Regions from separate parts of the Homo sapiens genome. Here region 2 is linked to region 1. Evidence: fine-mapped expression QTL. A gene starts in region 1. The other region holds a variant in brackets. All regions are shown on one strand. Distances are from middle to middle. Region 1 holds the start of H3C6 (H3 clustered histone 6). Region 2 holds the start of H2BC6 (H2B clustered histone 6).

Region 1 (5,379 bases):
AGATGTTCTGGTGGATTTAATGATATAAAAAGATGCATTCTGTGCCCACCAAGTCCAAGTCCTCACGTACTGAATTCCAGTAGCTGTAAGAGAAATACAGGTTAAAACTTGTTGAGCTAGAATCTTAAAGAAAGTACAGGATACAGGAAACAACATTCAAATAGAGAATGCTTCTATCTAGCATAATAGGATGTTCACTATGTTACAAATATCTGACAGTAGTTACCTTAATTATGGATAGTTAGGCTGTTTTCCTCACGCACTGAATCTCCAATTCACAAGACCCACATCTTCATGTCTGACAGGCTTCCATGAACAAAAATTTCTTCCATAAATCTCCAGGACTTCTTACTATGGCTACCTTGGCCTGCAGAGCTATTTACAGCTTTGTCACTATTAATTTTACCACATGACTAACCTCTTTCCTTAGTGCAACTAGTGGGAAAAGAGCACATTCAAAAAAGTTAGTAGAAATTTCTCAATGAGTTAAAAATACTGCACCCCATATCAAAACTGAGGAATTTGCTGAAATGTTTAAATAAACAAAATTCTTCCAAATAGCATGCAGTATCCCATATAGTACATACACCCTTCTGTATTTCCAAATAACAGCCTGTATGATTTCGTAACAGAATTCCTTATTTTCCTTCCCTTCACCTACCAGTTTCGAAGCTGTGCCTTTGTATGGAAAGGAAAGGCAGAATATTTTCTGTAAGAACTTTGAAGCCGTCCAAGGATTTTCATGTTTTGTTGATAAATATGGGGTACTTTTAATGAGATTTGATTAAGACAGGGTATTTACTAAAGTTGAAAAGTTCTTTTAAGATATCAGCCGGAAGGCCGGGCGAGGTGGCTCATGCCTGTAATCCCAGCTACTCGGAAGGCTGAGGCAGGAGAATCGCTTGAACCCGGGAGGCGGAGGTTGCGGTGAGCCGAGATCGCGCCAATGCACTCCAGCCTGGGCAACAAGGGCGAAACTCCGTCTCAAAATAAATAAATAAATAAATAAATAAATAAATAAATAAATAAATAAGAAAAGAAAAAAGCAAACAAAAGATATCAACTGGAAAGTTGAAAAGGCTCATGATTTCTGCATTTTCCTTTCGCACTCAGGTTTGAGACACACCCATCTGCACCTTCGTTGCTTTGACTCCTGCAGTTTAGAACCTATGCAAGGCTGTCAAGTCTGCAAGAGCTGTGTGTTAGTGCCACGGGTCTAGGTGTTCCAGCTAATAACCTTAGCCTTAGACCAGTATCAGGCGCACAGAGAGTAACGTTGACCGCACCCAAGGCACCGACCGTCGCCGGCAAGTAGCTGGGTCTCAAAACACTAGTGGAGTAAGGCAGCCTGATGCAGATCAAAAGCGCTGGCCCCTCGGGCAAGGTCAAATAAACATCAAGGAAAGGCAAAACCAAGGCGTTGAAAGCCTATGCAGTTAAGACCTAAAATGCAGGCCACCACATGAAAGAGCGTTGAGCCAGAAAACAAGAGGATGGGTTAAGCAGGGTACAATTAAGTGGCCAGGAGTTTAGAAAACGAGAACAATGTACAAGAAAGCAGCAGAGGGCCTGAACAGCAAAACAAAGCCAGCTAAACCAATGGAGAACAGCGTAGGGAGGCCCAGCCCTAGGCGAAAACCTGAGGGAGCGCTTAAATTTGGAAATTTAAATGAAGCATCGAGGGAACTGAATGCCACTATTTCAAATGTCTATTTGGATCAGTGCAGTTTAGTGGTCTAATGCGTCTCAAAGGATTACAGCCCTTTTCACGGACAAAGTGGTTGGCTCTGAGAAGAGCCTTTGGATTTAAGGTTTGTACTCAAAACAATTCACGCCCTCTCCCCACGAATGCGGCGGGCAAGCTGGATGTCTTTAGGCATGATGGTCACGCGTTTGGCATGAATAGCGCACAGGTTGGTGTCCTCGAAAAGCCCCACCAAGTAGGCCTCGCAGGCCTCCTGCAGCGCCATCACCGCGGAACTCTGGAAGCGCAGGTCGGTCTTGAAGTCCTGAGCTATTTCTCGCACCAGGCGCTGAAACGGCAGCTTCCGGATTAGAAGCTCGGTAGACTTCTGGTAGCGACGGATCTCGCGCAGAGCCACGGTGCCAGGGCGGTAGCGATGGGGCTTCTTCACGCCGCCCGTGGCCGGAGCGCTCTTGCGAGCTGCCTTAGTGGCCAGCTGTTTGCGCGGTGCTTTACCGCCTGTGGATTTACGAGCCGTCTGCTTAGTACGCGCCATAGTTCATCTGCAAAGTAAATGAGTTAGGAAGATTGGTTTGCCCCTCTATATAGGAACAGAATCACTCTGATTGGATTGTGGACGATCCCTGTTAGTGATCGGTTGCTAAATTCCGGAAGTGGCCGTAGAGATTCACGATTGGTTTATTTTTTCAGTGCAAGATTCTGATTGGTAAATTTGGATAGAGAACTGGCTCTTTCAAACAAGTCGTTTTCCGTTACAGGTTTCTTTGATGTTTCACGTAGACCATGACCTGCAAAGACATTGATCATTTAACTTAATAGACTGATCTGTTATCCTGTTTAGCTATAAAAAATCGAATGTGTTTGCGTTAGAAAGTGCTTTAGAATTTTTTTTCCAAAATCTCCGCTGCTTTTTTCTGCATTTTCCTGAAGTTTTTCCCTTCCTTATTCACTCATTTAAAATCCGTTGCCTAAGTATCTCTCAATGATTCCTCGTTTCATTATAGAGTACAAGGCTAATTCACTCAAACAAGGTTTTCTAAGATACACTGTTAAGCATAAGGAACTTTGTGTTTCATTTGTGTTATAGTAAAATTCTAATATCCTGGAATCCCTACCTCTGTAATATCGGGTTTGACTCAAAGAACTTAACACTATTATTTCGTTTTGTTGAAATTAAAACGTCCAGACATAATGGCAAGAGCCGTCAAAAAAAGTATTTTCAATTTAAAATCTTGAAAAAGATGGCGGCGAAGAGAGTGTTAGAAGGTTGTTTCTCTGTAAGACAACAATGGCGCAGTTTCTCCGGATCCCTGCGGGAGAGAGCTGAGGTGCACCGAACAATTTAAGACACATCCAACAGAACTTTTATAGGAACTGGACTCACCCAAATAACAGGACTTCTTAACTTGGTTTTCGCTTCCACACTCAACAGCTCCCAATTACTTTGAAAAAGTAACAAATGTTTACTGGAAAAGATTCTTAAAGAATGACATTACAGCCTAACACTATTGTGAATTAACCTATCGGATTCCCTGTAAGGTGTTCTTTTCCTAGCCAATAAAAAGAGCAGTTTGGGAATTCCTAATTTACATACTTTTAATCTATTGGCTACTTTGGTTCAGGCAGAGTTTTGATTTACAAGTTCGCGTTTGTGTAAGCGTACTATAAATATTTCAGAGAGGGATAGTGCGCGTGCGTGCCCGTTGCAAGGTCTAGTTTCTTTTTGTTTTTCTTTCCCAGTAGGTTTTCTTTCTCATTGGAAAGCTATTTTGTAAAGTGTAGCAGGTTCGCAATGACGCTGGCATGTAGTCCAAGGCGATTGACATCATGAATATGCTGGAGCCCCCGTCCTCCAGGGAGGGGAAACGGCTAAACCAAATTTATCACTGCCCGCAAATGCCCGCGGATGTCTGCAAGCTGGAGTGGAGAGGAGACAAAGGATGCTTTGTGCATTCCTGCTCATTCCCTGAATTCTGTTAAACCTGCCCTATTTTAGGGCATTCATCAAAATTCTGCTAACCACAGGATTGATACAATTGCACCTTTCAAGTTAGTGTCTATTTTGCAAATTTGAATTATCTTAGGACTCGTGGGCAAGTCTTGACTGAAATTACACATTGTCGTGCGTTTCAATCTCACATCTGAAATATATATGAGTCCCTTGCTTCTCTCCTTTTCAGAAAAAGAAAATTCTGTACACTTTAAATCACGGTAAAACGGTTAGGTATGTTGGCAAAATTGTTTCATAGGAAGCAAGGGAAGAACTGAAATCCTTTTGTATAATATGATTACGTATTTGTGGGCTGGGCCGTTTGTTAATGAGAGCTATGCACCCCCTGTGCTTTTCCTCTCCACACTCCCTACATCTCATCTTCTGAGGCCCAAGACCTGTTTATTGATATTATCTTCTGTTTTCTCATTTTCATTTTAGTTTTTTCATTTCTATTATTAGAATGTTAATATCTACATCTAAAAAATGTTTCCAAAATCAAAAGATAAACTTTAGGTCACAGTCAGTGAGAACCATTAAGGAAATTCCATCTTTATGCCCCATAGTTCTATTTCCTCCCCAGTGTTCTTAAATCTGTCAATCCGGTGTTTTGCCATTGGAACCTACCTTCAGTTCCTTTCATAATCCTCATCTCTAAATATGTGTAAAGCTTTATTTTAGAAGTCAGTGCAAAATTTACATGATTACATAAGAACTTAGCAGCTCACTTGTATTAATCAGTAATTTCCATCACTATTTCCATACCTGAACACAATTTCCCATAGGATCTGTGTTATGTGATAAAACAGTCAGAAACCAGTTGTGGCTACTGAGCATTTGAAATGTGGTTGTTGCTGCTGAGGACTGACTTTCTTTTTTTTTTGAGAAGGAGTCTTGCTCTGTCACTCAGGATGGAGTGCAGTGGGGTGATCTCAGCTCACTGTTAGCTCCACCTCCCGAGTTTAAGCGATTCTCCTGCCTCAGTCTCCAGAGTAGCTGTAGTTACAGGTGCTTGTCACCATGCCCGGCTTATTTTTTTGGGGGGGGTGGGGTGGAGGTATTTTTAGTAGAAACGGGGTTTCATCATGTTGGCTAGGCTGGTCTCGATTTCCTGACCTTAAGTAATCCATCCACCTCGGCCTCCCAAAGTGCTGGGATTATAGCCGTGAGCCACTGTGCCCGGCCTGAATTTTTATTTTACTTTTCATTATTTTAATTCAAAGGCTGATACTTCAGTTATTGGAAAATGTTAGATATGTTTTAAACAATCAGATATATGAATTTTATTTTTCAGCACTGAAATTTATGAAATCAAAATGAAATTCCATTTATTTCCAACAAAAATGTAATATCAAATTGAATAGGATGTCCCTCATATTTAGAAGACTTAAGATTTAAAAAAGAATGTGAAATATTGCATTAATAATGTTTTTATATTGACTATATTTTGAAATAATTATTTTGTATTTTGTTTTAAATACAATAATTATTAAAATTCTTTTACCTGCTTATTAATTTTTAAAATGTGCTTACTGGAAAATTCAAAATTACATATGTGGCTTGCATTATTCTTTTTTATTTTTATTTTTTTTTTGAGGCAGAGTCTTGCTCTGTCACCCAGGCTGCAGTGCAGTGCTGCCGTCTTAGCTTACTGCAACCTCTGCCTCTCCGGTTCCAGCGATTT
Region 2 (5,379 bases), 42 kb after region 1:
ATCTGATTAATTTGACTACACCTATCCTAAAGATCACATGCCCCTTATTAATGATTGGATTGGGGATAGGTATATAGTCAGTTTTTGTGATTAGGAGAATCCTTAACAATGGAGACCCAACTTCTCTAAGAACATGATAAAGATGAGATGGGGATTGTCGATCAATGAACAATGTGTGTATGTGTTTGTGTGCGAGCGCGAGTGTGGTTGCACACTGAGAATTGTTCAAGTCTAATTGGTGAAACCAGACAGGTGAGGCGGTAGAGGGAAGAGGGTTTTATTTTTTCCTTTAGAACCTAAAATAAAAATCCAAATTAAGACCTTTTTGAAGTAATTGAGGAAAGGAAAAAAGCAAATTCAACATTAAGAACTACTTGAAAGCAGCAGTCTCCTCTCCTCCTTCCCCACCCCCGCTCCAGCCCCCCATAATATGGGCTTCTTTGGTAAAACCCGTATTTTTAAGGACTCTTGAGAAACGAAGTTTCTCTTCGTAGAGCAAAACTATGAAATTACTATTGCCTCTTAGGTACTATCGAGTGATACCTCATAAAACACGGAAACCAGAGTTTCATAAAGCCACCAGCCCAGACAGTGAGTGCCATTTTAAGTTTTAAAAACATGCCTATTTCAGCTGCAGGAGTTTCTAGTATCTTCACATGTCAGTATATAGCTCCAATTGTGAAAAGGTGAGTGGCTCTGAAAAGAGCCTTTGGGTTTACTAAGGCAGTTGCAGGGACAAGTTTACTTGGAGCTGGTGTACTTGGTAACGGCCTTGGTGCCCTCTGACACAGCGTGCTTGGCCAGCTCCCCGGGAAGCAGCAGGCGCACGGCCGTCTGGATCTCCCTGGAGGTGATGGTCGAGCGCTTGTTGTAATGCGCCAGGCGGGAAGCCTCGCCGGCGATGCGCTCGAAGATGTCGTTGACAAAGGAATTCATGATCCCCATGGCTTTAGAGGAGATGCCGGTGTCGGGGTGGACCTGTTTCAGCACCTTGTACACGTATACGGAGTAGCTCTCCTTGCGGCTGCGCTTGCGCTTCTTGCCGTCCTTCTTCTGCGCCTTGGTCACGGCCTTCTTGGAGCCCTTCTTCGGGGCGGGAGCGGATTTCGCTGGCTCAGGCATGCTATCTTTGCTGTTCTGCAGTTAGGAAAGAAAATGAAATCTACATCTCCTGATCCTCGGAATTTGTAGACAATGTTATGTAAATGAAGATTTAGTTTCTCCAACTCTGATTCGTTATTTTGTCGTGAAGTCTGCATGCAAATGAAGGAGCTTAGGTCTACTCTCCCATTGGTCATATCCTGAGAGCAGTTTTCGAGCACGGGCCACCTAATTAACATTTTATATAACAAGTTCCTACCATTGCAAACAATTCAGATTAGTTTACTTATTTTAAAAACCAGAAGTTGCTCTCTTCTATGCTTTTATATGCCAGGGAGACAAAGCTCCTGGCGCAGTTACGTCTTCGAATTGAAAGGTCGGTTTAAAAGCTCCTGGAAAAGCTATGCCTTGACATTCAGATGTAGATTCTGGAGCAGCAGGAGATACCTGAAGAACGGCAAGCTAGGCGACCGGCGATCACCCACACAATCCGGAGAACAGTGTTTCCCACTTTTTACAGAATGCACAAACACATCGTGAAAATAAAGGGTAGGCAATAAAGCTCCGGAGAAAACAACAACAAAAAAGTAAATAGCATCTCTTGAAGAGAGCTAAGACAGGAAAGACTTTCTTAGCCAAAATGGCTACAGTCCTTAATGGAAAAGCAAGTCACACCTAGTTTAGCCCTACAACGAGGATCAGAAATAAATATTCCGTCTAACTAGTGAAAATATTTTTTAAAAAATTAAAATGAAAGCCTATTTAACAAACAGCTTTACTTTCAAGTTAGTATTATTATCTTTGGCTGAAGCCCGCTGCTTAGCTAACTTCAGTTTAAGAAACTGTTCTTCCTAAATTTGACTGTCCTTTTTAAGCCCCCACTCCTTCACCCCACGCTCCCCAGCCCCCTAGCCCTTCTCCTCTCCTGCCACCATTCCCATTTCCCGGGCCCTAAGTCTCCAGGAATGAAGGTGCTGCGCAAAAAGTATTCCGCTCTGTGGGTTAGCATCTAACAAAAGTGTACTCTGAATTTATTGTGTCTTATCTTTGTTTCACAAAATAATTTGTTTTTCTCACTTCAGTGATGACGAGAAAACCTTAAAATCTGTTTAACATCTTTTTTAATTTTCAATGTAGCTAATGTAGCAGTGTTCAGAATAATAGCTAATGTG[C/T]TTTATTTGTATTTATTTAATCAAAAAATCTTGGGCCGGGCGCAGTGGCGCAAGCCTGTAATCCCAGCACTTTGGGAGGCCGAGGCGGGTGGATCACCTGAGGGCAGGAGTTCGAGACCAGCCTGACCAACATGGTGAAACCCCGTCTCTACTAAATACAAAAACTTAGCTGAGTAGGGTGGCACACGCCTGTCATCCCAACTACTTGGGAGGCTGAGGCAGGAGAATCGCTTGAACACGGGAGGTGGGGGTTGCAGTGAGCTGAGACTGCACCGCTGTACTCCAGCCTGGGCAACCAGAGCAAAACTCCTTCTTAAAAAAAAAAAAAAAAAGGGCCGGGCGCGGTGGCTCACGCCTGTAATCCCAGCAGTTTGGGAGGCTGAGGCGGGCGGATCACAAGGTCAGGAGATCGAGACCATCCTGGCTAACACGGTGAAACCCTGTCTCTACGAAAAATACAAAAAATTAGCTGGGCGTGGTGGTGAGCGCCTGTAGTCCCAGCTACTCGGAAGACTGAGGCAGGAGAATGGCGTGAACCTGGGAGGCGGAGCTTGCAGTGTGCCGAGATTGGCACTGCACTACAGCCTGGGCAACAGAGCGAGACTCTGTCTCAAAGAGGGAGAGAGGAAAAAAAAAAAAAGGTCTGGCGTGGTGTCTCACGCCTGTAATCCCAACACTTTGGGAGGCCGAGGCATGCGGATCCCGAGATCAGGAGTTTGAGACCAGCCTGGCCAATATAGTGGAACCCTGTCGCTGCTAAAAATACAAAAATTAGCCGGGCGTGGTGGCGCATGCCTGTAGTCTCAGCTACTTGGGAGGCTGAAGGAGATCCCGGGAGGCCGAGGTTGCAGTGAGCCGAGACCGCACCATTGCACTCCAGCCTACGTGACAGAGCAACAGCAAGACTCCATCTCAAAAAACAAAACAAAACAAACAAACAAAAAAACATGTGATATTACTTTTGTTCTCATTTAACAGAAAGGGAAATTAGAGTACCCAAGTTGCGGCATCCTGCCCCAAACCCCATCGCTTATACTAGGTGTAACCAGAATGATGATTTAGGCAGTCTGGCTTGGATCTAGTCTGTTAGAAAACATCTTCACCTACCTTGGTGGGCTGTGTTGCAAAAAGAGAAAAATGCTTCTTGTTCTTCTTATGTTAAAAGAATGGAAAATGAAGCATTTCTTTAATGACTATAAGAGGTTGTTAGAAATGAAAAAAAAAACCTCTGATGGTATATCTAGTCAGTAGAGAAAAAGGAGAAAGACAAATGAGAGAAAATTTAAACCGTATTAAGGGAAAAGTGGCAGAGGGAGAGAAAAAAGAAACAGACACAATGGAAAGAGAGACAGACGTGAAGAGTAGGATAAAAAGAAAGAAATTCACCTAAAGAGGATGAACTAATACGTTGGAGAGACACAAAATGAACATACACAAAGAAAACCAGAGGGAGAGGAGTCCAGTGATACAATCTGCAACTGCAAGAAGAAACAGAAAGAAAAGTGCAGATGAAGGCCCTTAACTACATCCAAACTACACATATCAGATATTCAACTGACAAGATTGGATTGAGACCCTTAAATGATTTTAATGAGGCAGGTAACATTGCCATTTGTGATTTTTGAAATTCCTGCTAAAGACTAAAATTTCTGCACTTTTATATCTATATGAATAAAAATGGTGATGTGGCACATAAGTAAGAAAAAGATAGGGGAAATTTAAAAAATGACAAAAACTGTAGAGTGGCATTGAGGTTTCCTGTCTCTGATTGAGATCTCAGGAGAGTTTTAAACATTTTTATAGTAAATATTATATCTGCACAAAAGGGTATATGCAACATAAACAAGAATTGTAAAACAAATGGTTGGTACTTAAAAACCCAGTTTAAGAACTAAAATGTCATTAGTAATTAAGTAGGCCCTGTATATAACTCTCCCCAATTCCGTGGGAGAGACAGGAAGAACTTTGAGCTAGGCGAACAGCGATCACTCACACAATCTTATGAACAGTATATCTCACTTTTCACAGAGTACACAAATACATCATCAAAATAAAGGGCAGTTTAAGAACTAGAATGTTGGGCTGGGCGCAGTGGCTCATGCCTATAATTCCCAGCACTTTGGGAGGCCAATGCGGGTGGATCATCTGAGGTCAGGAGTTCGAGACCAGCCTGATCAACATGGTGAAACCCTGTTCCTATTAAAAATACAAAAATTAGCTGGGCATGGTGGCACACATCTATAATCCAGCTACTTGGTTGGCTGAGGTAGGGAGAATCGCTTGAACCTGGGAGATGGAAGCTGCATTGAGCTGAGATTGTGCCATTGGACTCCAGCCTGGGCCACAGAGTGAGGCTATGTCTCAAAAAAAAAAAAAAAACAAAAAACTAGAATGTCATTAGTAATTAACCAGTCCTTGTATAACTCTCCTATATATATGTTTTTTATTTAAAAATTTTTTGGGCCAGACACGTTGGCTCACGCCTATAATCGCAGCACTTTGGGAGGCCAAGGCGGGTGGATCGCTTGAGGCCAGGAGTTTGAGAACAGCCTAGCAAATATGGTGATACCCTGTCTCTACTAAAAATAGCAAGATTAGCCCAGCGTGGTGACACATGCCTGCAATCCCAGCCACTTGGGAGGTTGAGGAAGGAGAATTGCTTGAACCCAGGAGGTGGAGGTTGCAGTGAGCCAAGATTGTGTGCTTCTGCACTCCTACCTGGGAGACAGAGTGAGACCCTGTCTCAAGAAAAAAAAAAAACATTTTTTTTTAGAGAAGGGGATCTCACTATATTGCCCAGGCATCCTCCCATCTTAGCCTCCCCAGTCACTGAAATTATAAGTGTCAGACACCAAGCATGGCCCTACATTTTGTCTTTATCAATCTTATTTTTGTTTTTGCTTGTTTTTTGGTTTTTCTTAGTTTAAATATCTAAGAATGGATCCATAAATTGTAAGTCATTTCATTTTGCCTATTTTTATCTTCACATAAATGGAATCACAAGCTGTATATAATTTTATGATGTTTTTTATCCAAACCAATATTTTTGAGATTCATTCATGTTCATATATGTTACTCCAGTACCATCATTTCATTATTTTAAATA

The links. PIP is the estimated chance that this variant, and not a neighbour inherited with it, causes the effect.
Region 2: its variant is the best candidate, but not a certain one, in a credible set for the expression of H3C6 in blood mononuclear cells (TOPMed, PIP 0.55).

Annotation. Positions count from the first base shown.
Region 1 is chr6:26,222,016-26,227,394 of GRCh38, reverse strand. It overlaps H3C6 (H3 clustered histone 6), which reads right to left and starts at 2,260. Exons shown (of 1, transcript NM_003532.3): 1 at 1,779-2,260. The coding sequence starts at 2,240. The coding sequence ends at 1,830. RefSeq lists enhancers at 1,018-1,633, 1,634-2,250.
Region 2 is chr6:26,179,539-26,184,917 of GRCh38, reverse strand. H2BC6 (H2B clustered histone 6) reads right to left here and starts at 1,157. Exons shown (of 1, transcript NM_003523.3): 1 at 688-1,157. The coding sequence starts at 1,122. The coding sequence ends at 742. RefSeq lists enhancers at 835-894, 1,345-1,534, 1,394-2,123. The variant C/T (reference allele first, on the strand shown) is at 2,274.